Regions from separate parts of the Homo sapiens genome. Here regions 1, 2, 3, 4, 5 and 6 are each linked to region 7. The links come from fine-mapping of genetic effects on gene expression. A gene starts in region 7. Each other region holds a variant in brackets. All regions are shown on one strand. Distances are between the middles of the regions.

Region 1 (4,000 bases), 25 kb after region 7:
AGCCCTACCACTGCCCAGGCAGGCCCAGGAAGTGTCCCAGCAGTGCCCAAGAAGGTCACCTCCACCTGTGGAATCCACAGTGTGGGTAGCCCCCAGGGAGCCACAGCCATCTAGGCCCAGATTCACAGGAGGATGCGGTTACTGCAAGCATCTGAACCTGGCCCCACCACCTATGGGCAGAGTTGGTTCCAGCTCAGTGTGTCCATGGGATATCTTTAGGTTCACCTTGCTTTTCTGTCCCATGCTCACATGTTGGAGCTAAGCTGCATGGAGTGTCCTTCTCCCTGTACGTATGAGATTAGTCAGCAGTCCTGTCTCCTTCCATATTCTGTCTTTATTTCTGCGACAGTATTTCTGGAGAACATTGTATTTGTGCTTTTCCTTTGATATGTTTGTAATTTTCGTTAGAAAAACCGTTATAGATTCTAAAGCTTCTACATTCAGTATTTCAATCAATGATAACAAACTGGTGTAAGACTAAATACAAAATACAAACATCAACACATTTCCATAAATTGCTGTTATAATGTCTGCCACAAAAAGTTCAGTTGTTTGTATGTTTTTCAAATGTGCTTTGCTTGTCTTGATGATTTACAACTGTTGGCACCGCTGTTTAAGTCTGTTCTGACAGTGAGAAAGTGACTCATTTGGCAAAGTCAGCTTTTTTTTTTTAATAAAAGTGAATACTGGTGAGTGGAAAGGGGCTTGTGTACAATTTTCTTGTCAAAGAACGATGACCGGCAAATAAGCAATTTTAGTTCCTTGGATTTGAGCACCACTCTCACATGCCTCCACCAACCAGCTTGTCTCCACAGAGCTTCCTTCCTCACTTTACACTGAAAATCTGTTATCAGTGTGTGGAAAATAAAAATTTTACACAGCGTTAGTTTTGAGGATGTGGATTACTATTTACAGGTGTTTTTTTAAAAAGTAAAAGGTGTTCCCATTGTTTAGTTATTGCCTTATGATTTGATTTTCTTGTTTCACGAAGAAGAAAAGCTTTTAATTAAATGTATTTAAATAGTAAAAATATACATGTCACTTCACCTGGTTCCAGTTAAATGTGTTAACAGTGTATTTGGTTGGTGCTTAATAAAAACATGTTCAGTGCAGTAATAATTAACTTCAGGTAAACCCTTATATAGGGAGTAAACAGAAATGTTGAGTGGTTACTCAGCATGGGGAAGGTATACAGCAAGTCATTGGTCAGTATTGGGTATCATCATATTCTTACCATCTTTTTTCTGGAGTTTTAATAGTTGTTTTTTAAAAAAATCTCTGTTTTAATAAGGCATTTTGATGTTTGAAACTACCTTGGATAAGTATATCAAGACCCTTCAGAGATTCTAAAACATGTTCAGCACTTTCTGGTACAATATTCTCAAAGAACCAGGATACATCTTATTTCTCAAAATGAAACAAAAATGTATTAGACATTACCCTTGTGATTTCAAGCCCACAGTCTGTCACTTTGAAGTATTTATATCCTTTTACAAAAGAAAAGCCAAATGAAGATCTCCCTGAAAAAATATTTTAATAGAATGTGTCTTTATTTCAGTAT[C/G]TTAAATAGTGAAGATGGAGAAATATTCAATAATGAAGAGCATGAATATGCATCGAAAAAAAGGAAAAAGGACCATTTTAGAAATGACACAAATACTCAAAGTAAGATCATTCTCATTAATTTTATTTTACTTGTTGATTACGTTGAAATACTAAATTACTCTGACAATGCTATCTTATGAAATAAAAGGTGATACAAATATGTAAATAACAGCCCAGTATCCAGCATTGCCTACAGATTTAGTGATCAAACTTTTTGCAGCTCAACCGTTTCAGTGGGTAAGATGTGCAAAAACAAAATAAGAGATAGCCAAACCCACAAAACAGCCCATGAATCTGAATGCTTGAATTATGGTCATGAATTCAGCTCAGTCTTGAGCAGTGAGGCCAAACTGAGAGGTGTCCTGACTTGAGTTTTGAAGTCACTGAAGATTCAGAGCAGGAGACAGACATTCAGAGCTGGAGTTTAGGATGTTAGATGGCAGCAGGGGAAGGCTGGAGGTGGGACCTATCTATGTGAGGGCATAGAGCTCTATCATGCAGCATATCTGTGAGTTACCAAGACACATGTTAATGTATAGTAGGCTCCCTTACCTCAGGGGATAGACCTCCAGTGGATGCCTGAAACTGTGGATACTACCAAACCTTATGGATACTATGGTTTTTTTTATGTATATACACACTTATAATAAAGTTTAATTTATAAATTAGGTGCAGTAAGAGATTAACGAGAATAATAAAATGAAACAGTTATAGCAAGATGGCCACCATCACTGCTCTTGCACTTTGGGGCCATTATGAAGTACAGTAAGGGTTCTTTAAATACAAGCACTGTGATATCTCAACAGGTGATCCGATAACCAAGACGGCTACTGAGTGACCAAGGGGCGGGTAGTGTAGGACTCGCTTGACAAAGGGAGGATTTGCATCCCAGGCAGGACAGAGCAGGACGGTGTGAGATTTCATGACACCACCCAGAATGGCACACAATTTAAAACTTATGAATGGTTTATTTCTGGAATTTTCCACTTAATGTTTTCAAACCAAACCTGACTGTGGGTAATTGAAACTGTAGAAGGTGAAACTGTGAATACGGGGGGACTACTTTATGAAGAAGATAGGGTCACATGGAGAATACAGTTAGTGTGATTCTTGAAACTTTTAAGATTTATCTGAAAAATTTGTTTCTATGGAGTACCATACACAGCAACAGAAGAATAGAACTTTTTATTAGGGTACATAGGAATGTAGTAATGTAATTGCATTTTATAATCATTTATGTCTTCATATGGCTTCAGTCATTAATAATACTAATTTTCTTCTAAGTTACTAGGACTTGGTACTGTCTGAAATCATTGTTCATATCTTAAACTGATTTAAGAAACAAAGCAATTCTGTTTGCATTCACCCACGTAAAAGCATTTCTTGTCAATATAGTAAGTCAGATAATTTTGTTAACATGTCCAATTATTTAAATTCCTTTAAAATCTTCATTTTGAAATGATTTGCCAGATTTTAAAAACAAAGGTAATTTTTATTCTAGGTTTTTATCGTGAAAAATGGATCTATGTCCATAAAGAAAGCACAAAGGAAGTAAGTATTCTATTATAAATATGAGAGTATCTTGTATTGTTTCTGTTGAATATGGAGTCACATTAAATAAATGTATTAATAAAGTTGCATAAAACACATTTCTTTTGCAATATCAGATCTATGGTTCACATTCTGACAGATAATAGCATATGAGGAGCTTTTGAGGCAGTGATTTTCCATTGTGTGTGCTTGCATGTGCATGTGGTATGTGGCTGTGTATTTGTGCACACATTTGTGTGTGTTGTGTGTATGGTGTATGTGTGTGGTATATATGGTGTGTATGTATGATTGTGCATGTATTTGTGCAGATACTGGTGTGTGGGATGTATGGTGTGTGGTGGCATGTGGTATATGTGTGCAGTGTGTGGTTCCTGCCTACCTGTACATATCTGAGTCTACAGCAGGGTTATTTAAACCAAGCATGGACTCCTGCAGTCATACGCATTTTCTCTGTGTTAGCATGAACCCCTGATGCTGATGGGAATGTGTCCTCCCTGTGGCGTGTTTTGGAGGGCAGGGCATCTGTGAGCCCTCTCATTCCACATAAAGAGTGGCTAACATGAAATTAGTAATTGGGTTGGGTTTGTGCAGAGCTGTGTGAACTCTTTCCCTGCCTTTCTTTTGCCAAGTTGGGCTAAAGCTTTTTCATGAGCCATAAAACAAACGAGAGAGCTTCAAGCTGTTTCCTGTTTCTTTACTAGGATCCGGGAAGTTGAGTTCCTTTTATAGGCCTAGAAACTCTGCATTTGCTTTATTTTGCAACAATTGGGGAAAATAATTTAGGGAATTACTGTCTATCGTATGTTATTTCAGGGTAAGTTAAATATTCCAGAAATGTTTGTAGATG
Region 2 (4,570 bases), 50 kb before region 7:
CAGCCGCACAATCACAATCTGAGAATGTCTTGAAACATGCACACACAAGGGACTCTACCGCCAGACCTCACCACCACCCAGGCCATCCCCATCACCAGCTCTCCCGCCAGTGGCTCCGCTAGTCCAGGCGGAGCACAGGACTCTAGTTTAATAAGCTCCTCAGGTGACTATGCTGCATCATGCCAACCTAAACATCAAAAAGAGAGAGTCTGTCTTAAAACAAAACAAAACAAAACAAAACAAAGGCATGTACTGGGGAATAGGGGATTTCAATGGGAATATGTGCGCCATGGTAAACTATGTGAGGATTCAGGCAGGCAAACAAAGAGAAAGGTTTTTAGAGAAAAAAAAATGAGGATTATGTCATTGTTTTGAGAGAATTATCCTTGGCTCTGGATCCTAGGATCAATAACAAGGGTGACGTCAGTCCGAGGTTGGACAGGCCTGCTGGGCAGATGTCCTCAAGGAAGTATTTTTTGTGTAAGGTTGTGATGTCCTATGAGCAAGCGTGGGTTTGCAGTCTCCTGTGACAGTTTTTGTTGTTGGGTGAACAAGCCTCAGGATGCACTCTCCGTGGCCTTCCCTGCTCCAGTTGCCAGGGTTTTTTTGGTTTTGTTTTTGTTTTTGCTTTTAATAAAAGTGATTCCATTTTGATTCTGACAACTTTCAGAGTTATCAGGTTTGGAAAATACTGCTCGACATTGTCCTGGAATCCATACCACAAAAGACAGAATTCTTTTTTTTTTTTTTAAATTGGAATTAGAGTTCTCAATATCACTTCCCTGGTAGAGTTGGTCAAAATGCCACCCTCCAGATGCCTCATTTGACTAGTTTTTGGCTGCTATGCTGTTAATATTTTAATTAGTGAACCAGGTTGGACTTATTCTCAGAGTGTTTCAAGAGTAGGTAAAACATGTTCATTCTCTTGCTGAAAGTAAACACATATTGTTGGAAGGTAAATGAGATGTTTCCATAGGTTTCTATTTGCACATATGAAACTAAGCAAGTTATTTTTTTTTCTTTGAGACAGAATCTCACTCTGCAGTCCAGGCTGGAGTGCAGTGGTACAGATCATAGCTTACTACTAAGCAATCCTCCCACCTCAGCCTCCCGAGTAGCTGGGACCACAGGTGCACACCACTATGCCCAACTAATTTATATATATATATACACACACACACACACACACACAATGCTGGGATTACAGGTGTGAGCCACCACGCTGGGATGCAGATGATTCTTTTCAGAGCCTTTCTCCAGCAACCGACCACGTTAGTCAGTCAAACCTGGAGTTAAGGTATTTATAGCCCTGAAAATAAAGAACTAGAGACTTTCCTACTCAAAAACCTAGCGCCCAGCTTTCTCTCCCTGTTTCCAATGAGCACAGGCTGTAATGCATTCACAGGAGGGAATGCCATCTCATTTGCTTTCTATTTGTTTGAATAAATCTACTTGCAGTAGCTTTTATACTTTTGGTGAAACAAAGGTTGACTTTTTGAAAAAAAATGCTATTTTCAAGTCCAGATCACGTCCCATACACAGAGTATTCAATGTCAGAATAATTATGTCCTAGGAAGAAATTTATATGAAACATGAGTCACTGTTTAAATTAGGGAAGTTGGCAAATTAATAAAAGTGAGTGTTCCAGGAGAAACCTTCTGCAAATTATTCACAGTTGCTGCCAAATCCCTTGCCAACGTGTTTGAGACTGAGTACCATTAAAAATCGTGCTTTTAATACACACGTTATACAAGGCCTGCACCTCAGTCACTGTGGAGTGTGGGTGGTTGGCCAGGGATGGGGGCTGGGGAGAAAAGCTGACTTCCAATCTCATTAAATAACTGAAATGAGGTATCCATGTGCTTTCCAACTGCGAGAACAACAGTGTAATTAAGCAGAGTGTGAATGCACTGAAAGCAGGTGAATCACTTCATATTTCACAACGGTGAGGTGGGATTTGCTCACAGCTAGAGGCACAGAGGCTACCTGGGTCCATCTGCAGATCAGCCAGTTCTCTTATGGCAACAACTTTCCCAGTGAATCTTTGCATTGTTTGCTTCTGTCAGATGACTGGAGGTCTCCTGAAGAACAATTGTCAAAAACATGTTAATTCCTTGAGGCAACCTTTAGAAGGCATTGGAAGCATCAGAAAGCAGCCTGAGCCCACAAATCCACAAACAAGCATCCCTCTCAGGCAAAGGCCACTCCGCCTGTCAACACCGAGAAGGAGGGAGGCCATTCAGTCACAGTGAAAGAAGCCGGACCCGGGGAGATGCTGATTACAATGCACACGTCAAGTCGCTCTGTTTGACCAGCACGATACATAAATTGTAAGCTATTTGAAAGCAAACTTCTTTTTAAAATTTTTTTTATTTCCATAGGTTTTCGGGGAACAGGTGGTATTCGGTTGCATGATTAAGTTCTTTAGTGGTGGTTAATGAGATTCTGGTGTACCCATCACCCGAGCAACATA[T/C]ACTGAACCCAATCAGTAGGTCTTTTATCCCTCACTCCCCCTCCCACCCTTTCCCCCTGAGTCCTCAAAGTCCATTGTGTTATTCTTAAGGCTTTGCAGACTCATAGCTTAGCTCCCACTTATGAGTGAGAACATAAGATGTTTGGTTTTCCATTCCTGAGTTACTTCACTTAAAATAATGGTCTCTACCTCCATCCAGGTTGCTATGAATGCCATTATTTTGTTCCTTTTTTTGGCTGATTAGTATTCAATGGTCTATATATACCACAGTTTCTTTATTATCCACTCATTGATTGATGGGCATTTGGGTTGGTTTCATATTTTTGCAATTGCGAATTGTGCTGCTGTAAATGTGTGTGCAAGCATCTTTTTCAAATGGCTTCTTTCCTCTGGGTAGATGCTCAGGAGTGGGATTGCTGGGTCAAACCGTAGTTCTACTTTTGGTTCTTTAAGGGATCTTCACACTGTTTTCCATAGTGGTTGTACTAGTTTACATTCCCACCACCAGTGTAGAAGTGTTCCCTTTTTACTGCATCCGTGCCAACATCTACTATCCAGAATCTACAACAAACTCAAACAAATTAGCAAGAAAAAAGCAAACAATCCCATCAAAAAGTAGGCTAAGGACATGAATTGATAGTTCTCAAAAGATACACAAATGGCCAACAAACATAGGAAAAAATGCTCAACATTACTAATGATCAGGGAAATGCAAATCAAAACCATAGTGCGATACCACCTTACTCCTGCAAGAATGACCATAAGCAAAAAATCAAAAAACAATAGAAGGTAAAGTTCTTGAAAGCATTCTGGCTTTAAAGACCTCTGACAGTGTGTGCAGGTGGGGAGAGGAGGGAGGTTTGCCCCCAGGAAGTCGGCTTGCCGCCTTTCTTCTCCTTGCTGATCTGGCTTGACCCTGGTCTGACTTTGCTCCGCGGTTGCTCTCTGCTGCAAGTCACCACAGCCCCTCCCATCCCACCCCACAGATGCTAGCTTTTGGCTCAAGCCTGGGCCAACATCCATTCCTTCCTGCTAAGGCCCACAGCAGCTGCATCCCAGCCAGCGCCGACCCAAAGAGGATGACACACTCGATTTTAAAGGCAAAAGGAAACTTCAAGGAAAATGTGTTTCAAGTCCTAACAGAGAAAGAGGAACAGAGTCATTAGTCCAAATGAACTCAGCTGCAGGGTTGTAGGCTCCAACATTAATTCCAAATGTCCTATCTTCCATCTGGTCGAATGCTGATCTATTGCAGCACTGATCTTCCCTTGAATTCAACTATCTTTTAGGTTTTTAAAACTCTTTAATTTTGAATAAATCACAGGTACAAAATAACACCCAAAAGTTTAATGATTTCCTGTAAGGATAACACTGGCAGTGACACCGGCCGCCCCTCCACAGTCCCATCCCAGCCTCAACACCCTCCTTCTCTCTGGAAGGTGACCACTGACTCCCAAGGTAATTGTTCCCTTGTGGATGTTTTTTCTTTCAATTTTTTTTTTTTTTTTTTTTTTTTTTTTTTTTTTTTTTTGCAGACAGAGTCTTGCTCAGTCGCCCAGACTGGAGTGCAGTGGCGCGATCTCTCCTCACTGCAAGCTCCGCCTCCCGGGTTCACGCCATTCTCCTGCCTCAGCCTTCTGAGTAGCTGGGACTACAGGCGCCCCGCCACCACGCCCGGCTAATTTTTTGTGTTTTTAGTAGAGACGGGGTTTCACCGTGTTGCCCAGGCTGGTCTTGAACTCCTGGGCCTCAGCTGATCCACCCGCCTCAGCTTCCCAAAGTGCTGGGATTACAGGTGTGAGCCACTGCGCCTGGCCCATCCCCCACTTTTTATCATTGTAGTTCGTCACATTGTCAGAGCACATAGCACATATATGATGTTCTCTTTCTTTCAATCCTCATTTATCTTAGTTTTACAAAGAACTATACCTTCAATTTTTACCACCAATACTTAAGTTGATGTGTCTCTCATTCTTCTGGTTGTCTTGAAATGAGTTGTCAAAGATTCCTCTAAATGTGTTCCTGGGAATAATATTTCCTGAGTTATTGCACGTTGATAACAGTTTTTCTGTTCCATGTATACCTGCAAGTAAGTTT
Region 3 (4,570 bases), 45 kb before region 7:
GCGCATCATGAACTGAGAGGTTGCAGTTTTGCCCTGCTGTGTGGGAACTTCTTGTGGGGCACTTTCATTATCTGTAGGCATTTCATTCTGTTCTCTACTCTCTATTTTCTTATATTAATTTTGTGCGGGATTTACCTTCAATACTTTTCTAATGTTAATTTTTATGTAAAATTGGATATCCTGAAGTTTTAGAAAAAGTGGGATTCAATGTAGATGTTTAAAACTTTATGAAGTCCCTCTTTGGTTGTTTTTATGTGATGTTAAAAAATATGGAAGTTTGGCCGGGCGCGGTGGCTCACGCCTGTAATCCCAGCACTTTGGGAGGCCGAGACGGGCGGATCACGAGGTCAGGAGATCGAGACCATCCTGGCTAACACGGTGAAACCCCGTCTCTACTAAAAATACAAAAATTAGCCGGGCATGGTGGCGCGTGCCTGTAGTCCCAGCTACACAGGAGGCTGAGGCAGGAGAATGGCGTGAACCCGGGAGGTGGAGCTTGCAGTGAGTCGAGATCGCGCCACTGCACTCCAGCCTGGGCGACAGAGCGAAACTCCGACTCAAAAAAAAAAAAAAAAAATATGGAAGTTTGATTTCTGAGATTTCTTCACTCTATTCCCTTCCTCCACTTTTATCTAGACCTTCTCTTCACTTGGTCTTCATTGTCCCTGCCCTTCATTTTTTTGTTTTACCTCATATATATATGTCTCAAAAAATATATATATATATAACCTCATATATATATATAACCTCATATATATATAACCTCATATATATATAACCTCATATATATATATAAAACCTCATATATATATATAAAACCTCATATATATATATATATATAAAACCTCATATATATATATATATATATATATATATATATATATATATTTTTTTTTTTTTTTTTTTTTTTTTTTTTTTTTTGAGACAGGGTCTCACTCTGTTGCCCAGGCTGGAGGACAGTTGCACAATCTTGGCTCACTGCAGCCTCCTCCCCCCAGGTTCGAGTTATTCTCCTGCCTCAGCCTCCTGGGTAGCTGGGATTACAGGCACATGCCACTATGCCTGGCTAATTTTTGTATTTTTAGTAGAGACAAGGTTTTGCCATGTTGGTTAGGCTGGTCTTGAACTGACCTCAACTGATCCATCCACCTCAGCCTCACAAAGTTCTGAGATTAAAGGCGTGAACCACTGTGCCCAGCCTACTCCCAATAATTTTTTTTCATTCATAGAAAGGAGCCTGGCTTATCAGAATTAAGAGTTCCCAGGAGTCAGAGGCCCCAGTCCCTCAGTCCTTTTTGACTCATCAACTACTGGATGAGTAAACCCCACATGTGTCAGTCACAGCACTCGGGTTGACCTGCCGTGCTTCCCCATGGCGACTCCTGCACATCTGGGGTCATGGATGCTTCCCATGGTGATGTCTGCACATCTGGGATTGTGGATGCATCCCATGGTGATGTCTGCACATCTAGGGTCATGGATGCTTCCCCGTGACAATGTCTGCACATCTGGGGTCATGGATGCTTCCCCACGGCAATGTCTGCACATCTGGGGTTGTAGATGCTTCCCCGTGGCAATGTCTGCACATCTGGGATTGTGGATGCTTCCCCGTGGCAATGTCTGCACATCTGGGATTGTGGATGCTTCCCCGTGGCAATGTCTGCACATCTGGGATCGTGGATGCTTCCCATGGTGATGTCTGCACATCTGGGGTCATGGATGCTTCCCCGTGGCAATGTCTGCACATCTGGGGTCATGGGTGCTTCCCCATGGCAATGTCTGCACATCTGGGGTCGTGGATGCTTCCCATGGTGATGTCTGCACATCTGGGGTCATGGATGCTTCCCCGTGGCAATGTCTGCACTTCTGGGGTCATGGATGCTTCCCCGTGGCAATGTCTGCACATCTGGGGTCGTGGATGCTTCCCCGTGGCAATGTCTGCACATCTGGGATTGTGGATGCTTCCCCGTGGCAATGTCTGCACATCTGGGATTGTGGATGCTTCCCCGTGGCAATGTCTGCACATCTGGGATTGTCGATGCTTCCCCGTGGCAATGTCTGCACATCTGGGATTGTCGATGCTTCCCAGTGGCAATGTCTGCACATCTGGGATTGTCGATGCTTCCCTGTGGCAATGGCTGCACATCTGGGATCGTGGATGCTTCCCCGTGCTCCATGTGAGCCTCTGCTTCCTCTTACACAGAGACCAACATCATGCGTTCTGAAGGATTTTGGTTTAACCTCATCCGAATATAGTTTAGGGTCTTTAGTCACTTAGTTTTATTAATGATGTTTTGGGTTTTGCTACCTAGTTGAGATTCAAAAATGCACTGTCTCTCCCAGCTTCCAAGAATCCTGCAGGTTTGAAAACTTTAAAAGATCATAGAATTTTTATTCTGCTTATCTTAAATCAAATCCACTTAATTTGAACAGCTTTAAAAGTTTTTTTCACAAACTGGGAAAGAACCCTGTGCCAATGGGGCAAGTGGACGTCAGCTACTACCCTATACCATTGTCCCACAACGCACATAGGCCAGCACAGTGTACCACAGCTCCAAGCTGATCTACATTAAGAGGAAGAGAAGAGGCCCATTGCCTTCCCTGAGCATCTAAAAAGTCTCTTGTGACATAGTGAGTTTTTGCCAAACCTGATTTTCAGAGGTAACCTGACCCCTCGTAACTCACCCTTACAGAGTCACCATTTAAAGCACAAGTGCTGACGGCATCATGACCT[C/G]CAGTTCCTCCTGCATCAGAGATGGCTGTGAGGATTATCATGGGTGGGCTGGGTGCAACCATCTCATGCAATGGTAACAGTTCCTGACTCAGGTGCTGAGAGCGTGTTGTTTCTCGCCATCCATACATCATGGTAACAGTGTTCATGCTGCCACCCACCTCATCACCTCCTAAGGCAGGTGTCGTTCCTGCATTCCAAGCACATGCCTCAAACTACCCAATTTGTGCTACCTTGGACAGCTGGTACTGCCTCCTATTTAGTCATTCTCATTTATTACTCGACACTATCACTCACTGGTACCATCTTATTAGGAGAATGAGAATGAATCCAGGTTACAATTTCTGCTAAGACTTGGTGAGTTTTTTCCTGACTTTGTTAATGGACTTCCTGTCAACATTCTACCATTTGCTAAAAGAAATGTGGAAGGAAAATACAGTCATGAAAATCTCAAAGTTGTGACTTTCCACATCAATGTCAGCCTTTGCTGTGAAGTACGGTAGAAACCTAGAGTCAGAAAGAACCTTGGAAAGCATCTACACTGTGTTTCAAGTCTCTTCTTCTGTAGATGAGAGGAAAAAACTACCAGGGAGGTAAAGCTCCTCTTCTAATTTCAGGCAAAAGTAGGGCAGAGGCCAGACCTGTTGTCCAGTGTCCTGAACACTGGCAAGGAGCTATTTCTCAGGGTTGGCAGGCACGCTTAACAGCTCCTCCTGCACACCCCACAGCTTCAGTGGAATACTTTCAGGAGACATTTAACCCTTTCAGGCCATGGAATTATCACATGAACAATGCAATGAAAAGAGGAATAGAGTCTATGAGTGACACATGAAGAGCTAGTAGAATACTGAAAGTGAACTAGTGACGATGTCATATTTAAACTGAAGGTTCTCATAGAAGAATAAAAAAGAATTAAGATTAGTACAAGTAATAAAATCACCATTTCTATTCAAAGACAGAAATGTTAAAATAAGGAAGTGTGGCAGAATTTGCCAAATTCAATAGCGTCAAAAAATAAAATCTTTTTGAATCAAAGATTCTTGTGATCAACTTCAAAAATCAATTCAGAGGATTGATTGCCTCCCAAAGCACAAAATGAACATATTAAGCTGATCCTGCAGCTATAAACTGCTATACGTATAAAGATGCACTTAATCCCCGAATCCTTGGGTGACTGAGTTTAAACGTACATTAAAAGCCATGAACAATACTCCATGGGGAAGCTTAGAATTCTTCGTTGAAATTTCTCAACTCTAACTCTTCATGTCATGCCCCATATGCGGTTAGACTGACTAAATCTATAGTTATCTGTCACCATGATGCTGTTTTTAATTGAAATATTTGTGTAGTTAGGATTCACTGACCCAAATCTAGAACTGCCAGGGAGAAAGTCGCCAAGTCAAAAACGAGTGTCACCCACGGTCCAGGTCACCCACGGTCCAGGTCACACACGGTCCAGGTCACCCACGGTCCAGGTCACGCACGGTCCAGGTCACCCACGGTCCAGGTCACCCACGGTCCAGGTCACACACGGTCCAGGTCACCCACGGTCCAGGTCACGCACGGTCCAGGTCACCCACGGTCCAGGTCACGCACGGTCCAGGTAACTCAAGGTCCAGGTCAAGCACGGTCCAGGTCACGCAGGGCACTTGCACCTCCTGGCCCTGCTCCGCCATCTTACAGGAATTCAGTCCCCCAAAACACATGAAGGCAAACACCCAAGTCATGTGTATGTCTCCAGAGAAAACAGCAAGGCCGTGAAGTCACACTGTGGATTCTCCTGCCCCGTCCACGGCAGCCACTCTTGACCTGCCTCATGATCGTCTACATCAACACCAG
Region 4 (4,517 bases), 63 kb after region 7:
CCATGGTCTGGTGGTCCTGGTCTTGCAGGGGAACCGCTTTGCTAGTAGCATCCTGAACCAGCGGGGGAGAACAGCACAGGAGGGCAGCTGCTGAGGCTTGGGTCTGTGTTGGAAAGTGGCATTCACTGGCCTGGAGGAACAAGTGTCAGAGGTGGAGGCTGGCTTAAGGGCATGTGTGGAATTGACTTAATGTGCATTACTGAGCACAGAGCAGAGCCTTCGGATGTTAAATGAAGAACAAAGAACTTTCCCCAAAAAAATCTGTTATAAAGTTTTAATATAAACTGCACATGGAAATAGCATCTCTTCTTCAGTGAATAATTTTAAAGGTTATTTAGCACTGCAGCCTCATTAGTTGCCAAATTTGAAAGACTTAAAGGTAGAGATATGTTGTCTTAAGACTGTCTTCAAGTAGTTTGGGAATTTTTGGGTTATCTGATGAGAACTTGTTTGCTTTTAATAACCTTGTACTGTCCAAATTTAGTTACCTGATGTTTTTAGTTATTTTCGTAAATAATATGAATCAAACCTGAATGCTTAGATACACTCTGGCTCTTTCTAATCTTAACTTTTCCTTTTTTTCCCTCCCTTCACTGCATTCCTTCCTGATTCTTTCTTCATGATCTCGAAGGACTACCATCTTGCTTTACTATTCAAGGTACTTCCCTGTCTTGCCACACATCCTGTGTTCGGGATGAAAACGTTGCATCGTGCTGCATCTCATGCACGTCATCTTGGCCACTGCCCGGCTCGATTCCAGCTCTCGCTGACTTGAGCTTTCTCAGGACCCTGAGCAGGGCTGAGTGGCCACTTTGATCAAACACCTCAGCAAGGACGAGAGTGTTGATGAAATATTTTGCAGAACAACACCTGAGTGCTGAGGGAGGCTGCTAGATGTGCGCATAAACACTTCACCACACAGCACCTGGTTTGGCAGCACTGCCAGGGCATGCCATGGAGAGATCCAGCACTGACCCCAGAGCCTCTGGTCCCGTTTACCTGCGTTCCTCCTAAGAGTCTGCCAGTCTTCATCCACAAAATTAATTTTTCTGTCGTCACTTCTCATATTAAATATAATTCTGGATCCTTAGGTATGTGAGCATGGCCAGCTCCCTTGGAGCAAGCAGGAGCCTTGGGGGCTGAGGCCGTGTGTCCCCCTCTCCTGTCCTATGCAGGGAGCCCAAGCTGATTCAGGGATGAATGGCGGGTGGAGGGAACCCTGTGTAACAAAGTGAGCCAGGAACAGGAGGACAGGACAAAGGAATGGCTGGGACCAGAGGACAGAAAGTCCCCAGTGGTTTCTTCTGTGGCCTTGTAGATTCCGGGGCAGTGCAGGGTGGTGTCAGCAGCTGGCTCCTCTGACTCAGTACCAGATTCGGCACTGGAGGGCAGACCTGGGGCCACCGTCTCCTGCCCTACCTGAGCAGGAGTTCCATGGGAAACCTCTATGTAGAATCGGCTGCGGCTGCCCTTGTGTTGGTCATTCTCATCCAAGTTATCTCCCATGTACCTCTGAGGTGGGGCCCAGGGTCCACATCAACAAGCAGCTGACGACCCCTCAAGCACCATCACTAGAGTGTGGCTGGTGGTGGGGCCCCCTCCTAACCATCTCCCACCTCCCCACAGGACTCAGGACACCCCTGCACGGCGGCCGACCCTGACAGCTGCTTCACGCCTGTGTCTCCGCAGCACTTCATCGACCTCTTCAAGTTTTAAGGGCTGCCCCTGCCATCCCTATTGGAGATTGTGAATCCTGCTGTCTGTGCAGGGCTCATAGTGAGTGTTCTGTGAGGTGGGTGGAGACTCCTCGGAAGCCCCTGCTTCCAGAAAGCCTGGGAAGAACTGCCCTTCTGCAAAGGGGGGACTGCATGGTTGCATTTTCATCACTGAAAGTCAGAGGCCAA[G/C]GAAATCATTTCTACTTCTTTAAAAACTCCTTCTAAGCATATTAAAATGTGAAATTTTGCGTACTCTCTCTCTCTATATATATAGTTCAAAAATACTTTAGGTGGTCAGCTCCACATTCTTTGTTGACGTGACACTAACGGCCAATAATATGCTTCTTAATTATCAAATTATAGTTTCCCAATTGGGAAACTAATTGGGGGTGGGTTACAAAACATTTGATCCTTGTAAATACATTGTACAGAATATTTATTTTTTCTCAAAATGCATTTTAACTACTACATTGGCTGTGCCCAAATGAGTCCTCTTTGAATAGAAAGTGAACCCAGGGCAATGACAGCCATTCTTGTCTTAGGGATTATGGATCGGGGTATGAAGTGTGCACACGCAGCCCAACAACGGGCAGTGGTCTCTGTGCTCCTAGGCATCCAGCACAGGTTCTGGCAGGGCACCCCTGCTGGGGTTGGGGGCTGGTCTGTGCATAATCCTGGACTGTGATGGGAACAGCCCAGTGCAGTCTAAACTTCAATTGTGTTGAAACTACTTTAATAGACAAAGTAATAAATCATGTTTATCTATTGATTTAAACTTCATCAGTTTTGCATCCTACTGAGAAATGTTAGTGATTTTGATACTTAAATCCTTAAAAGATTGCTTCGTTTTTAAAATAACGCATGTCCATTTTAGAAAATTAGAAAATCAGTCCCACCACCCAAAGATTATTGTGCATGCTGAAAAGAGTATGAAAAATCCCCTCAGCAGGCATAGGATAGAAACGTATTGTTGTATATTTCCATTTTTGAATAGGGTCAAGGAGCCCAAGCAAATCATTTCTACTTTTTCCTTTAAGCATAATAATAAAAGTATACTTTTATGGCGTTATAAATAGGACTAAAAAAAGATTCTGGATTTTTCAGCCCCACTTCTGTGAACTGACACAAATGGCCAAGAATGCATTTATTTGTCAAATTATAGTTTCTCCTGAGGCGATGCAAATACCTGGGGCCTCTGCGAATATATGTTAGTTTTTCATAAGACCATAAATGTCCCGTATACCACTGTTACTTCACAACGCCCCCCGTCCCGACCCTGCCTTTTTTTAGAAACGTAGAACCATATCCTAAATGTTATTTGGAAACTTGGCTTTTATTAGCTCCACAGAATCACCCAGATGGAACAGGCTTTTTCATCACAACATATTGGGGTTCCTGAGTGTCTCGCCGTTAGCATCAATAACTATGATAAGCATCGTCACACAACAATGTGGCCGTCTCCTTACAACCACTGGTAGTACAGCCAACATCATGAGTCAAACATATTTTAAGGCTTTTAAATATATTTCTAGATTGTTCATGAAAAAAAATTTTTTTGGAGTTTGTTTTTGAGACAGGGTCTTGCTCTGTCACCCAGGCTGGAGTGCAGGGGTATGATGTCGGCTTACTGCAACCTCTGTCCCCCAGGCTCAAGTGATCCTCCCACCTCACCCTCCAGTGATCCTCCCACCTCAGCCTCCCAAGCAGTCAGGACCACAGGCATATACCACCATGCTCAGCTGTTTTTTTGTATTTTTAGTAGAGATGGGGTTTCACCATGTTGCCCAGGCTGGTCTCAGGAGTTTGAGCTCAAGCAATCCACCTGCCTCAGCTTCCCAAAGTGCTGGGATTACAGGCATGAGCCACCACGTCCAGCTGAGAAAAGAAATTGTTCTAATCTAGGAAAGGGAGTAAGTACATTGAGTTTCCATTATCCCTGAAGCACAGGTATTTCTTTTTCTGTTGGTGCTGTTTTAATAAGTGAAGAATTTGATGTATGATAAATTGTGAGCTTGAATATTTCCATATATTTATTATCCATTTGCTTTTCTTGTTTTTGGTAAATTACTTAATGTGGTATTTGCCTGTTTTTTGGGGTGGATGTCAGTCTTTTTTCATGTTAGTTTCTTCTTAAAAGGAAACTATCCTTTTGAAGTTGTGGTTCTTTCCCCTAATTTGTCATATACTGTTACTGTCATTTAATTGTTAGATGTTATAACAGTTCTCAGCTGTGCTATCAAATCACAGATGTGCATTTAACTTGTATAAATTGAGCAGTACTTGCTTGGAAAACATAACCATATTAATAGTGTAGGATTCCAGCTGTTCTGCTGGGCTGGCATATTTCCACAGGCCATGGACACAGCTAGCCGCATTGCCACTGCATGGGTCACAGCCTCCTGCAGGTGCGTTCGAGGGACAAGCTGTGGGAGCTGGGCAGGTAAGCAGGGATGGCTTACATTGCTGGGGAGAGATTGAAAGGTTAATGGAGGGTATAAGGACAGAATAAAGACAATTTTGAGGCACTGATCAGTTATTTACAGAAGATCGGACAACACCAAACAGAGATGAGAAGAGAAATCATAGATCTCCACTTTGGAATGGTATTTTTGAATACAGTTTCTATCAGGGGGCCTTCCAAAAGTAGGGATGCCACTCCTGTGAGATTAAGTTACATTCTGATGCCTTCATTACAATGAAGTAGATAATTCAGGACCCCAGGAGCCTAAAGCCAGGTAGTAAGTTTCACTTGCCCATCGCTCCTGTGAAAGGCAATGCCAGACACTCTCAAGATAGAATCTC
Region 5 (4,570 bases), 730 kb after region 7:
CTGAAAAGAACTTTGGAATTTTCCTTTACTTCCATGCCTGGGGGTTTGCAGGCTCCTGAAAGTGGGGGGTTTCCAGTTCATTTCAACCTCTCTGCAGAAGATTATGATTAGAAAATCATCAAAAATAAATTCATCTTTCTGTAAAACCAGGAAGTTATCATAAAATTATATTGATCATTAATAGGAGTCATGAGAAATATATATGAATAAAAATATATATTTTTTGCTTTTAGAAGGGACTTAGAATGATAAGTAATAGATATGTCTTCTGGAAAACAATTAAGTCCAACTTTATCAGAAATAGATTTCTGAAACTGTGACTATTTTGACCAAATTATAAAGCTGGTTTGGAGTTAAGAAGGGCCTGGACACAAACACTTTGCTCACCAAGTCAAAATAAATATTATTCAGATTTTATTACAGCATAAATTCTAGTTTAGCCAGCATCACAAATGTGAGGAATTCATATTAATATTAATCATATGAATGTAAGCAATAGAATTAAGAGTAATCTAAAACCAGACTTTGATTTTTGGATTTCAGATAACACAGTAGTATTTAATTTGTAATGAACATCACTCAGTTGTTTTATACAATCATAAAATCCGTATTGGGAATTGATTAACCCTTTTTTTTTTTAAGTTCAGTGGTACAAGTGCAGGTTTGTTACATAGGTAAATGTGTGTCATGGGGGTTTGTGATACAAATTGTTTCCTTATCCAGATATTAAGCCCAGTACCCATTAGTTACTTTTCCTACTCCTCCCCCTCCTCCCCCCTCCACCTCCCACAGGCCCCTGTGGATGTTGGTCCCCTTTATGCATCCATGAGTTCTCATCATTTAGCTCCCACTTATAAGACAGAACATGTGGCATTTGTTTTCTCTCCATTAGTTCACTGAGGATAATGGCCTCCAGTTCCATCTGTGTTCCTGCCAAGGACATGATCTTGTTCTTTTTATGGCTGCATAGTATTCCATGGTATACATGTACCACATTTTCTTAATCCAGTCTACCATTGATGGCATTTAGGTTGATTCCATGTTTTTGCTCTTGTGAATAGTGCTGCAATGAACGTGCATGTGTCTTAGTGGTAGAACGATGTATATTCCTTTGGGTTTATACCCAGTCATGGGATTGCTTGGTGCAATGGTAGTTCTGTTTTTAGGTCTTTGAGGCATCACCACTCTGTCTTCCACAATGGTTGAGTAATTTACACTCCCACCAACAGTGTATAAGCAATTCCTTTTTTTCTGCCACCTTGTAAGCATGTGTTATTTTTTGAGTTTTAGTAATAGCCAGGAATTTGCATTAATTAATGATAGAACTTACATTAATCATATTAATAATGTAAGCAATGTAATCTAAAACATGATTTCAAATTGAATAAACTTGTATAAGTTCGTTTTCACACTGCTATAAAGAACTGCCTGAGAATGGGTAATTTATAAAGGAAAGAGGTTTAACTGACTCACAGTTCAGCAGGGCTGGGGAGGCCTCAGGAAACTTATTCATGGTGGAAGGAGAAGCAGGCCCATATTACGTGGCGGCAGGCGAGGGAGAGCATGTGAGAGCACAGAAAAAAACACCATTTATAATATAAACCAGATCTCCTGAGAACTCACTATCATGGGAACAGTGTGGGGGAGACCTCCCTCCGTGATCCAATCCCCTCCCGCCAGGTCTCTCCCTAAACACTTGGGGGTTACCATACAAGATGAGATTTGGGTGGGGATATCAATAGAATCAATATCAAACTCTATTGATTAAACTTTGAATATGATTTTTAGTGCTAAAGAGACTCCGATAAGATGATTCTATTCTTTATTTTCTATTTCCTCCATTCTTGTCACTGAAAGGTGTCCCTCCCCAAGGACTCTAACACCTTAACCTGTAAAGCTTTCTGGGATTTGACAGTTTTTTTGCTGCTATTGGTTACATAAAATTACAAGTATAGGCACTTACCCTATATAACATTGTGGGGTTTTTTGTTTTGTTTTTGCTTTTTAACAAATACATGTCAGTTAGTATTTTCCAAGCTGCCTAAGGAAAACCTTTGTCCCCAAATCCATTTTCAAGAATTAAAAAGCAGCTTCAGGACACAGTTTCATAAAAACAAAAGCAAAGCTAAGGACCCAGGCGGCTGTCTGAGTGCATCTCGTCTTAGGGGAAAGAGCCTTTGAGGGTGCGTCAGTGGAGAGGCGGAAATGGTTTTAGGAACCACGCAGAGATAGTTACTTAGAGATTTCTCACCTTGGATCCTAGAAGGGTTTTTTTGTGGGTTTTTTTTTTTTTTTTTTTTTTTTGTCCATATCTTAAGAAGCGCTAGACTCTGAAAAGGGGCATGCGGTCTTTCAGGAGACGGAGCGTGGCACACCTAAGGGGAACGACATTCTCAAGGTGATCCCTTCCT[C/T]ACTGCCTTGCGGCATGTCAGAAAGTGTGCTTTCCAGGAACTGCAGGTTGGGCGCTAAGCCTTCGTTTGAAAAAAGCCAAACCTCTCCATGGATCCCTAAGCTTACCGATGCAGAGGATGGCCACTTTTGTGGACAGTATGAGCTGGTGATATTTCTGGTAGAAAAACACGAAGGAGATGTTCATGATGACAAAACAATAGATCTCTGCTGAGCACGGGGGATTGGCAGGAATCATCGCAGGGAAGGTTGCCCGTCGTGTAATCACAAGCAATCATTTTTCGAAGTTAAGAAACGAGATTTAAACTGCTTTACAGTTTACCTCTTGGCCACAGAGCACAGAATCAATGAGCCAGATCCTCCAAAAATCAAACTTTATTCAAGTCAAGAAGCTCATTCTCTTCCTGTGCTTAAGATATTTTTCCCAACCTGCTCATGAAAAATTCACGCAAGGGATTTGAGATTCCCCTTGCCTTCCTCTTGCTTCCAGGGGAAGCTGCCAGGTAGAAGTAGTGAGGAATCTGGTATTGCACTGTCCCAAGGGGCGGGACACCTGCCTTTGAAGACCCCTGGGTTCTGCTCCCTTAGGCACATGAGTTGGGTTGACCTCACACCTGGCCTCAATTTCCAGCCCTCTCATTTACCAGCGAATAGACTTCAAACCTCGTAAAAAAAAACTCCCCTCCCATCAGCCATGAAGTGGGCTTGTAACTCAGATGCCCCGCAGCCTGTCCACAGCAGATGCTCGTGGGAGAGAAGGGAGTGGGAACACAGCTTCCCTGCAGCAGCAGATCTGGACAGCTCTCTGGCTCCCCATACAGGCCGGGGTGGATGCCCTCCTCATCGTCAGGCTGGCTCTGCATAATCAAAGCTTCCTTCGTGAGGGCCACGGCAGACAACGTGGCTAGCACCAAGTACGGTGCCTGGTGTGTAGACAACATAGGGCACTCAGATCTAGTGCCTGGTGCACAGCAGACCCATGACTCTGAACACATGACTATGCTCAGTAAAAACGTCTTTCTCTATGCTCTTCAAATTGAATGTGGATTCCCCCAGCTTCGTGCCTGAAGAGAGTGAGGAACCACCCGAAGCCAGCTCTTGAGGCTGGCAAACATGGAGGCCAGGGAGCAGGAGCACACGGGGCGTGTTGGTGGTGCAGGTGCGCCTAGAAGACCAGGCCTGGCTGCTCTCCAGAATGACCATTTTTAAATGTAGTGATCTTAAATGGTGAAGAGTAAATGCTCAGAACAAAGACATTTGATAGCACCTGTTGAGTGCTGGAGGTATTCTGTTTGTGCTGCTTCAACTTGTGTGTAGTATGTCTGAAAAACTGTAATCCTGCCTCTCAAGATGGTGCCCAGCCACTGTGCTAGCTCAGGCCATGATCCCAGAATGGCTCAAACAACAGGAACTTATGTTCTTGCAGTTCTGGAGGCTGGCAGTCGAGGACAAGGGGCCCATAGCCTGGTTGGTTTCTCCTGAGGCCTCTCTTCCCAGCTTGCAGCGTGGCCTCCTCCTTGTGGCCTCCTCCCTGTGTGCCGGGGCCTCCCCTCTGTGCATGAGTAGGGGAGAGCCCTGGCATCTGTTCCCCTTGTTACAAAGACACCAGTCCTATTGAATTAGGGTTCACTCAAAACCTCATTTAACCTGGATTGTTTCTTCCTAGGCCGTCTCCAAACTATAGTCCTATTGGACTGGTGCACCAAATATGGATTTGGGGTGTGCGTAATTCAGTCCATAGCACCCACCAAACCACAGAAGCTGCCCCGAGCTGATGTCCCGCTATCGGTGCGGCTGCAGGACACTGTCCCATTGCTGCATGGAGCCTCTCGCTGTCTGAGCCTCACCTGAAGCCGGCCCACACCATTTTCTTACTCTATGCATTGGAGCGAAAATGTTTAATTGACTACGATGGGTGATTCCTAAAGTTATATTTGACTCAGAAAAAAATGCATTAGTAAAACTCCCTGTTTGAATGTTTCTAGTATTCACAGCCCGGGTCACTGTCTTTCTATAACGATTGGTATCTGAAATAAGAACATGGGCTGCAACTTACAGCCTTGCTCTTTCTACTATATAAACTTCCCTAATCAAATATTTTTCATTAAAAAAATGTGTTTTTGGAAATAAACAGTTACAACCTGGTTCCCAGCTATCTCTT
Region 6 (4,570 bases), 71 kb after region 7:
TATTCCTAAATATTTCAGTTTTTTTGTTACTATTATAATGGAATTTTCTTAAATTTCCTTTTGAGATTGCTTGTTATTGTATAGAAATATCATGGATTTGTTGTGTTGATTTTGTAAACTGCAGTGTTACTGAAATTTTTTTTTGTATATGTATGGACACTAGGATTTTCTACATATAAGATCATGTCATCTGCAAACAGATAATTTTGCTTCTTCCTTTCCAGTCTGGATGCCTTTTATTTCTTTTTCTTGCCTAACTGCTCTAAGACTCCAGTACTGTGTTAAACAGAAGTGGTGAGACAGGGTATTTCTGTGTTGTTCTTGATCTTAAAGTCCTTTCAGTCTTATTGAATATGATGTTTACAGTGGGATGTTCATATGGCCTCTATTTTAGGTTGTTTCCTTCTATTCCCAATTGTTGAGTTTTTATCATGAAAGGGCATGACATTGTCTCAAATGCTTTTTCTCCATCAATGGAGATCACATTTTTTTCCTTCATTCTATTAATGTAATAGACATTACATTTATTGACTTGAGCATGTTGAAACATCTTTGCATACCAGCTGTAAATCTTACTTGGCCATGATGTGTAATCCTTTCAATGTCCCACTGAATCCTGTTGGCCAGTATTTTGTTGAATATTGATTTAAAAAAATCTTGATCAGGAATACTGATGTGTGGTGTTTTTTTCTTATAGTGTCTTTGTCTGGTTTTGGTATCAGAATAATGATGGCCTCATAGAATGCATTTGGAAGTGTCCTTTCCTCTTCAGTTTTTTGGAAGAGTTTGAGGAGAATTGATTTAATTCTTCAGATGTTTGCCAGAATTCCCATATGACCCTGGGCTTTTCTTTCTTGGGAGGCTTTTCTTTACTACTTCATGCTCTTGACTAGCATAGGTCTGTTCAGATTTTCCATTTCTTCATGATTCAATCTTGATAGGCTGTGTGTTTCTAAGAATTTGTCCAGTTCATCTAGGTTATCCAATTCTTTGATATGTAATTGCTCATAGTACTCTTAATCCTTTTTATTTCTGTAAAATCAGTTGTAATGTCTCCTCCTGGTTTTTAGTTGTTTTTCTTAGTCACTCTTAGCTATCAACAAACTCTTGGTTTCATTTATTTTTCTCTATTGCTTTTCTGTTCTCTATTTTGTCTCTGCTCTAATCTTTATTATTATTATAATCATCTCCATTCTGCTGGCTTTGGGTTGATTGCTCTTCTTTTTCTAGTTCTTTCAGATGTAAATTTAGGGTTGACTTGAGATCTTAATTTGTTTAATAGGTGTATTTACAGTTACAAATTTCCCTCCTACCACTGCTTTGACTGTACCTGTTTTTTTGTATATTACATTTTTCATTTACCACAAGATATTTTCTAATTTCCCTTGTGAGTTCCCCATTAATCTGCTGGTTGAGAGCGTTGTTTAATTTTCACATAATTGTGTACTTTTCAGTTTTTTGTCTGTTACTGATTTCTAGTTTCATCCCACTGTGGCCAGAAAAGATATTTTATTTCCTCAGTCTTTTGAAATTTGTTGACTTGTTTAGTCATCTAACATACTGTCTATCCTAGAGAAAGGTCCATTTGCACTTGAGAAAAACGTGTGTACTGCTGTTGTGTCTGTTAGGTCCAGCTGGTATGATGCTGTTCAAGTTCTGTCTTGCGACTGATCTTCTGTCTGGTTGTCCTATCCGTTACTGAAAGTGGGCTACTGCAGTCTCCTACTCTTACTGTAGAACTATCCATTTCTTCCTTTGATTCTGTCAATGTTTGTTTCATATATTTTGGGCTCTGATGTTTGGTGCATATATATTACATCTTGGTGAATTTTCAAACTTTTTAAATTTCAACATGAAGATGAAATTATAGGATGTCTGGGATTTCCTTTGAATCCGTGGGGCTGGGAGTAACTATAAATGAAACAAGATTGGCCGGGAATTTGAGGCTGCAAGGATAGGTACACACAGGGGAGTGAAGCAGGGCTTGGAGCAGATGGTAAAGATTGTTGGCTTTTCCAGCCATGGGGCTCTCTTGCCACTTGGCAGTAGTGGCATGAAGCCGCCACCAGGGGGCCACGCACCAGTGCATGTGGCTGTGTTCCAAACTTTTTGGACAATAAAATCTGAATTTCACATACTTTTCTTATGTCATTAGATATTACCCTTTTACATCTTTTCACTATTTAAAAATGTAAAAATCATTCTTAACATTTGGGCTGTGCAAAAACAGCTGGTGGGCCCAATTTTGGCCTGTATTTCACTTGCCAACCTGATTTATACTTTTGTATCTATTTGACATTTTCCATTAAAAGTTATATAACACTACTTTTTTGTACTCGTTACTTTTT[A/T]AAAAAAACTTTCTACAATGAAAATACATTATTTTTACAATAAAAAGCCAAAATACATACACAAAAATGTTACCCATTAATTATGGGAATTACTTCAAGGTAATTCTTATTTTGAAATATCTTTCCAATATTTTCTCTTATATCGCTTTTTGAAGACGCATAACATGATCCCAAATAAACAGTTGAATAAACACCACCCTCCTCTCCCCTCCTGCCCAGAAACCCACCCATCTGGAGCTGCATCTCCCAGGAAAGGAGACTCTAGAGGGAACCGCCTTCTTGCATTTCTCTAGCCTGGATTCCCATGGGAAAGATGTGTATCTTCATGCTGAGCTTTGAAGATTCTTACAGAATAAAAATTCTTACCATATCCTTCTGTCTTAATAGCACGTTTTAAAGTCTCTAGGGAGAAGAGATTTCTGTAAACACTAGTTTCCAAAGAATAAAAAAAAAAATCACTTCTCAAAACTCAAATGGTATTTCCCATCACCCCCACACCATCCAGATTTGTTCAGCTTTCTTGAAAATAAATTATCTAAATTTTTAAAAATATTTTCCTAAAACTCTAAACAGAAGTAACGTCAAAGGGATCAATAGCCTCACTTCTTATGAAAGCTAAAACTCTACCCCTTTATCAAAAGCTAAAACTCTACCCCTTTATCAGTAAGTAAGTGAAAATATCTTTGCAACTCTGAAAAACCATGCTGGGACATTAATTTCTAAATACTTAAATGGCGGCCAGGTGCAGTCCCTCACACCTGTAATCCCAGCACTTGGGGAGGTCGAGGCCAGAGATTGCTTGAGCGAGCCCAGGAGTTCAAGACCAGCCTAGGCAATATAGCAAGACCTCGTCGCTACAAAAAAAAAAAAAAAAAAAAAAAGAAAAAGGAAAAAAGCCAGGCATGGTGGCACACGTGTAGTCCCAGTTACTCAGCAGGCAGAGGTGGAGGCTGCAGTGAGCTGTGTTTGTGCCACTGTACTCCTGACTGGGCAACAGTGTGAGACCCTGTCTCAAAAAATACATAAATATTTAAGTATCCACCCGAACTGACAGCCTTATAGTACCGGGGTGGGGGGCGGTCACTGTTACTGTCAGACACACTTGAAAAAGATGAAACCACTCACTGGTAAGATAACAGTTGGTCACCAAAAGGCAAAGATGCCAGCATGATGATGATAAGCTTCAAACATAATCAGAAACCCAGTGGATGGAGATTTGCCATGAAACAGCAGGTCTTGGAGATACAGTAACCAAAACTTAGAGAATGGAATACCTCATAAAGGTGACATGCCCTTCAGTGGTGATGAAACCAGTCTTTGAATCAGAGAAAGGCACAAAGGAAAGCAGCATGTTCCCAAGGCACACATGCCAGGAGAAAACAAGCCCACCAGCAGGAGGCCTGCCTTTAACACTCACCTGCTGGTGTGAGAGCAGACGAGGCTGCAGCCACATCAACCCTGGCTCTCCTATGTAACATTCACTCAGGACTGCCCGTGCCCCTCCAACGGGCTCAGCGCCATTCATGTTGCTTATCTGTTAACCTCTTCCCCAAACCCTGCTCTTCCAGCAGACGGCGCACACACTGTGCCACACGTGTGGCTGAAAGGATAGCCATGCGTGGGGATAGCCGGAGGTGCGGTCGCTCCCCAATTACTACATTTTCCCTCTAAAAACTTAAGTGTCACATTTCAAAACACCAGCTTCTTTAGCAAACCGGTTTTTCTGTACATAACCCAGACAGGCACCTCTCTGGGGCCCCCATGTCTACACAGAGTTGGGCACTGCCCTGGACTCTCATCTACCTGATGGACAGCTGGTGCAACTTTATCAGCTGTCAGCCTTAAATGAAGAGGCTCAGAAAATACGGGGAAGTGTCTAGCACATTCAAGCACACATTTTGAGGATGGCCACCTGGGGGATGGGCTCTACACAAACAGGGTCAGCGTTCCACAGTGGAAAGTTAAGGCTTCACTCATATAGGCAGGAGCCGAGATATCGCAGAGTCTTGCCGTTTTCCACAGACCAGTGTGTGCGCTATGGCAATATGACCCATTACAGATGGCTGCACTCCACAAAGTGAGGAGCAGTGATCTCAGGGGCCTCATCTCTGATGCATTTGGTCGTTTATAGGGAAAGAAAGGCAGAGGTTGCAGCTGTATGCTCCGTGGCTCCAGCTGCATAGCTGCATTCCTTCCAAGACTCAATATTTTTTGAGTGCTTT
Region 7 (4,570 bases):
TTAAAGAAAATTTTAAAACATGATTTTTCAACAAGTTGATTGCCAAAAAATCTCTGTGGTTAGGGAGGCACCTCCCTACTGGTCACTAATTCCCCCTGCCGAGCCTTCTGCCCGGGCAACTGCTCCACAATCTCCAGCTGCACCATGTGTTTTGAAAAGCATTTCTCCCCGCCCCTCTGGGGTTTTTCTCCTCCTCCAGTGGTGAAATTCCCGAGGGCACTGAGTGGGTTACTCTTCACAAGCACAGAGCTAAGCCCAGTCCTGGTAGAAAGGACACACAAAGAAGACCCAAGACCATGAATATGCTCTTGACATTACTCTGTGGGCTCTGCTGTTACTCTGTGGGTTCTGACGTTACTCTGTGGGCTCTGCTGTTACTCTGTGGGTTCTGACGTTACTTTGTGGGCTCTGCTGTTACTCTTTGGGCTCTGCTATCACACTATGGGTTCTGATGTTACTCTGTGGGTGCCTGCTATTATTCTGTGGGTCCTGCTGTTACTCTGTGGGCTCTGATGTTACACTGTGGGTTCTGCTGTTACTCTGTGGATCTCTCTGTGGTTACTCTCTGAATTCCTGCTCTTACTCTGTGGACTTCTTTTGTTGCTTTGTGAGTTTCTGCAGTTTGTTTACCTCTTTACCATCCATCCAGGAATTCTTTCACTAGGAATTGTGAGGATGCTAGCCAATTGGGCTAAATTTAATATTACTATGTCCCCCATTGTGGTGGTGGGGTCTTGGCTTGGCAATTTCTACTAGTATTCCATATGCAGTTAACCTTGACACATCAGTGAAAGAAAAATAAAATTTCAGGCCTCCAAACTTACTATGCCAAAGGGAAAAGTTAATATTGGCAAAACACACACACACACACACACACACACACACACACACACACGCAGTCTTCTTTTTGTTCCCAAAAGCTTACTTTATCTTATGTGAAATGTAGATCTACTGAGTATGAGACAGATGCATAACCCTCCCCCATACCTTTCTTTTCACATGTGAAATGTAGATTTGCTGTACTCTAATCAGAGCCTCACAAAAATGTGACCACTTGCCTCATAGCCTACTCTCCCCTCTTTCCCCTCCTACCGGCGCTTTTCCCTTAAATATTTGGAAAAAAGTACAGGCCAAAAATCCTACTGTAACCTGTGTTTCTTTTTCCCCAGACACGTCCACGATTTTGGCAGAATAAACCTCTAAATCAGTTGTGATCTGCCTCAGACACTTTTTGCTTTACACAACAATCCAATCATAGCGATTTATTTGGAAATATACCTTCACAAGTTAAATCAGACCACAGCGCTACTGGGCATTATTTATAATGGCAAACTATTGCAAACAATTTAAAACCTATCATAGACATCATAGAAACTATTCTAATAAATTGATACATTTATATAATAGAATAATCCGCAACCTTGAAGGGAATGAAGGAAGGAATAAAGAGAGAGGGAAAGGAAGAAAAGAACGGAGAGAGGGAAGGAGGGACAGACAGGTGTTTAAATTGGGGATGTGCAAGCAATATTGCCTACTTCATTGCCTTCACATTATTTAAAAGCATGTGGTCAAGAAACACTATTATAATAAGCACTTCAGAAATAACTTCTAAAATTACTTTTCCAAAATATGAATCCATACTATACACTTCCTGTAATGTGCACCACATGTAGATGCACACATTTTAACAAGGAAAAGACTAATACTCATATTTGCTTGCTACACACCAGACACTGTTTTAAATGTTTTGCACACGCTAACTCATTTGTTCTTATGGAAATCCTGTAGCGTGCACCGCCACCTCCATGTTTCTAGGCGGAAACTGAGGCACGGGGGCTGCGGCTCCTGGACCCACCTGGCCTTCTCGGCCTGCCTCTCTCCCTCCAGCCGCCCCACATTCTTTTTTCCTAATTGGAAAAAACTATTCACGCTGCTCCTCCAGGGCATTTCAACCTTCTAGAAAGATTCGACAAGATTCGAAACTGTTTATAAAGAGAACGTGCTTGTGCCCGAATGCTGAGTGTGAGCGCGCAGTGATGCCCTAGAGTGCAGTCATCCCGGGCTTGGCGCCCAGCGGGTGGAAATACGGCCGCAGGGTGGAAATGCGGCGGCGGGGCTGCCCAGGCTCCTGTGGGACCCGCGCGGCGCGGGCACGCACATTCTCAGGGACGCGCGTCCTCAGGCCACGAGAACACCTGAAGGCCCCGGCCAGCGTCCTCCCGTGAAGACCCGGACCGGCGTCGTCACCCGCCGCGCAGGCCTAAATCTCAGGTCTTCACCGTCATCTCCCAGCGATCGCAGGGATCTCAGGCACTGACCGCGCCCGTCCCTGCGCACCCGAGCCCCACCCCACGCCCCCACGCCCCCACGCCTCCACGCCCGGCACTCTGGACGCGCGCGGACGGAGGGGCAGTGCCTACTACGCAGGCGCACGCTGCGGGCGACAGGACCAGGCAGCAACATTGCCACGCGGATCCGCGCCGGCCAATCAGCATGGCCAGGGGCGGGGCTTCCCTGAGGCGCGCCGGGAGGCGGCGGCCCACTTCCGGCAATAACCGCCTGGTCGCCGTCAGGTGCGGGCCCAGGTGGCCGGCGCGCCCGTTGGGCACTGGGGGACGCGGGCGCGTCAGGTGAAGACTGGGGGCCGCAGGCGCGCTAGGTAGGTGCGGGGTGCAGCGGGCGCGTCAGGTGAAGACTTGGCGCCGCAGGCGCGTTAGGTGAAGATTGGGGCTCGCGGGCGCGTCAGGTGGGGACGACGGGCCACGGGCGAGTCAGGTGAAGACCGGGGGCGGCGGGCGCGTCAGGGGAAGACATGGGGTCGCGAGCGCGTCAGGTGGGGACGGGGCCTGTGGGAGGGTCAGGTGGGGACCGGGGGCCTCGGGCGCGTCAGGTGGGGACGGGGTTGTCGCGGGCGCGTCAGGTGGGGACGGGATTGCCGCGTGCGCGTCTGCTGAAGTCTGGGTCCGCGGGCGCGTCAGGTAGGGACGATGGGCCGCGGGCGCGTCAGGTGGGGTCTGGGGGCGGCCGGCGGGTGTGGAGGGTTCATTCAGGGAGCTGCGGGCGAGTCGGGTGGGCACGGGGGCCGCCCACAGGTGCACCGCGCGTCCTCAGCCGCTTCCCCTGCCCACCTTCTGCGACCCCTTCCCGCCCCCACCCTCCTGGGCCGTCTTGCAGGCCCGAGCTTGTGTCCGCCTCGCTGGGCAAGGTGTTTCGGGGACGACTCCTGCCGGCGTTTGCCCTCCGGGCTCGGTCCTTGCCTCTTCGCCGGTGGGCACCTGCTAGGTGTGACCCCTCATTCCTCCAGGCCACTCTGCCCCGTCTGCTGCTTACCTTTTTTTCCCTACTCCTGGTCTGTGGCTCTGGCTCTGTCTCTGTCTCCTCCCTTAATTTCTTTCCATGCTTATTTTTCTTGCAGCAGACACTAATTTTGCATCCTTCCCCTCACAGTAAGCTCAATTTGACCTTTTTCTCAATTAGATTCCACCTCTGTCCTTGGGCCTATTCAAACTCATTTTGAAGACTAAAGAATCTAGAGAACCATTTCTTCCCTTATGAAGCTGTCTCTTGCTGCCTCCAAATCCTTACCATCCGGCCCTAATCAGAAAAGACGTTTACTCTTTCATATTCTGTTTTCTCCTCGTCTTTACGTGTTTACCTTTCCCATGAGGAATCTGTGATTATCTGTAAGTCCTTAGAGTACAACTTATTTCTGACTCTCAGCCCTCAGTTTGCCATTTTTTAAAATGTCCTTTCTGGATCAAATTTGTCCACACTTATAAGCAAAACAAATAGGGAAACACATGTGGTCTTTTAAGATGGATTGGAGTTTTCTTTCCTGTGTTGTATTCCTTGTTTTAGTGCCTTTGTATTTAGGTTCATCATTACTTGAAATCATATTAGTGATCTGTAATAGACGGTAAAAAAAAAAAAAGTTAAAAAGCTTATAATTTAATGGCATCTGTTTTAATAGGGTTTTCAGGAACTGCTATTATAAACATAGTGGTTAGGAGCATGGATCCTGGAGTGAGACTCCATCATTTTGAATCCCAGCTCCACTGAACTCTTTGCCTCAGTGTCTTCATCTTTAAAATACATAATGAAACTTGTAAAACAAGAATAATGTTTTCTACCTTGGAGGACAGTGTGAGGATTAAATGAGACAACATATGTAGATTGTTTAGAGTAATGCGTAGCCTATGGTAAGCTCTAATAAATGTTTGCCATTATTATTGTTAAGAAAAAATATGCTTGTTGAAGGAAAGACATTTTTTTTTGTTCTGAGTCTCTCATGCCAAGAGTTTCCACCAGCAAATGAACTTCATGAAGTCCTTTTCTACTGAAGTATCCCACCCACGTGTCCTACCACATGAAATAGAAATTAAGGGAAGATTTTAAATAGTTAATCATTGTAGGCTGTCTGAAATAAGTTGGCATAAAATGTGCTTAAAATTTGCAAATTATACAAGCTACACCCTTTGAGTGCTTGCTCTTAAAAGTTTAATAATTTTCAGGAGTAATTTCTAGTTTTTTTGTGTTTGTAAATTCCCAAAATAAAGGTAATTTTAATTAA

Which allele goes with the higher level. Positions count from the first base shown, and alleles are read on the strand shown. Sizes are in standard deviations (SD) of each study's normalised expression. Not every link is listed here.
With allele C in place of G in region 1, the expression in testis of the gene that starts at base 2,551 in region 7 is higher (small effect, 0.25 SD a copy in GTEx).
For the expression in Th2 cells of the gene that starts at base 2,551 in region 7, allele G in region 3 goes with a higher level than allele C (large effect, 0.79 SD a copy in Schmiedel 2018).

What was found. PIP is the estimated chance that this variant, and not a neighbour inherited with it, causes the effect.
Region 1: its variant is fine-mapped to the expression of FBXO25 in testis (GTEx, PIP above 0.99).
Region 2: its variant is fine-mapped to the expression of FBXO25 in whole blood (INTERVAL, PIP above 0.99).
Region 3: its variant is fine-mapped to the expression of FBXO25 in Th2 cells (Schmiedel 2018, PIP 0.95).
Region 4: its variant is fine-mapped to the expression of FBXO25 in whole blood (INTERVAL, PIP above 0.99).
Region 5: its variant is fine-mapped to the expression of FBXO25 in fibroblasts (GTEx, PIP above 0.99).
Region 6: its variant is fine-mapped to the expression of FBXO25 in whole blood (TOPMed, PIP above 0.99).

Annotation. Positions count from the first base shown.
Region 1 is chr8:429,783-433,782 of GRCh38, forward strand. It overlaps FBXO25 (F-box protein 25), which reads left to right. Exons shown (of 10, transcript NM_183420.2): 3 at 1,559-1,662; 4 at 3,104-3,153. Among named protein-coding and RNA genes, the nearest start is that of FBXO25, 25 kb to the left of the region's middle. The variant C/G (reference allele first, on the strand shown) is at 1,562.
Region 2 is chr8:354,431-359,000 of GRCh38, forward strand. No RefSeq gene overlaps it. Among named protein-coding and RNA genes, the nearest start is that of FAM87A, 26 kb to the right of the region's middle. The variant T/C (reference allele first, on the strand shown) is at 2,474.
Region 3 is chr8:359,746-364,315 of GRCh38, forward strand. No RefSeq gene overlaps it. Among named protein-coding and RNA genes, the nearest start is that of FAM87A, 21 kb to the right of the region's middle. The variant C/G (reference allele first, on the strand shown) is at 2,735.
Region 4 is chr8:467,089-471,605 of GRCh38, forward strand. FBXO25 (F-box protein 25) reads left to right here. Exons shown (of 10, transcript NM_183420.2): 10 at 1,627-4,517. The coding sequence ends at 1,716. Among named protein-coding and RNA genes, the nearest start is that of FBXO25, 62 kb to the left of the region's middle. The variant G/C (reference allele first, on the strand shown) is at 1,905.
Region 5 is chr8:1,133,224-1,137,793 of GRCh38, forward strand. The region is part of intron 2 of DLGAP2 (DLG associated protein 2); the gene reads left to right. Among named protein-coding and RNA genes, the nearest start is that of DLGAP2, 400 kb to the left of the region's middle. RefSeq lists an enhancer at 1-252 and a silencer at 1-80. The variant C/T (reference allele first, on the strand shown) is at 2,412.
Region 6 is chr8:475,643-480,212 of GRCh38, forward strand. FBXO25 (F-box protein 25) reads left to right here. Exons shown (of 10, transcript NM_183420.2): 10 at 1-2,325. Among named protein-coding and RNA genes, the nearest start is that of TDRP, 67 kb to the right of the region's middle. RefSeq lists enhancers at 3,405-3,906, 3,907-4,406. The variant A/T (reference allele first, on the strand shown) is at 2,349.
Region 7 is chr8:404,408-408,977 of GRCh38, forward strand. FBXO25 (F-box protein 25) reads left to right here and starts at 2,551. Exons shown (of 10, transcript NM_183420.2): 1 at 2,551-2,659. RefSeq lists an enhancer at 113-172 and a silencer at 2,274-2,683.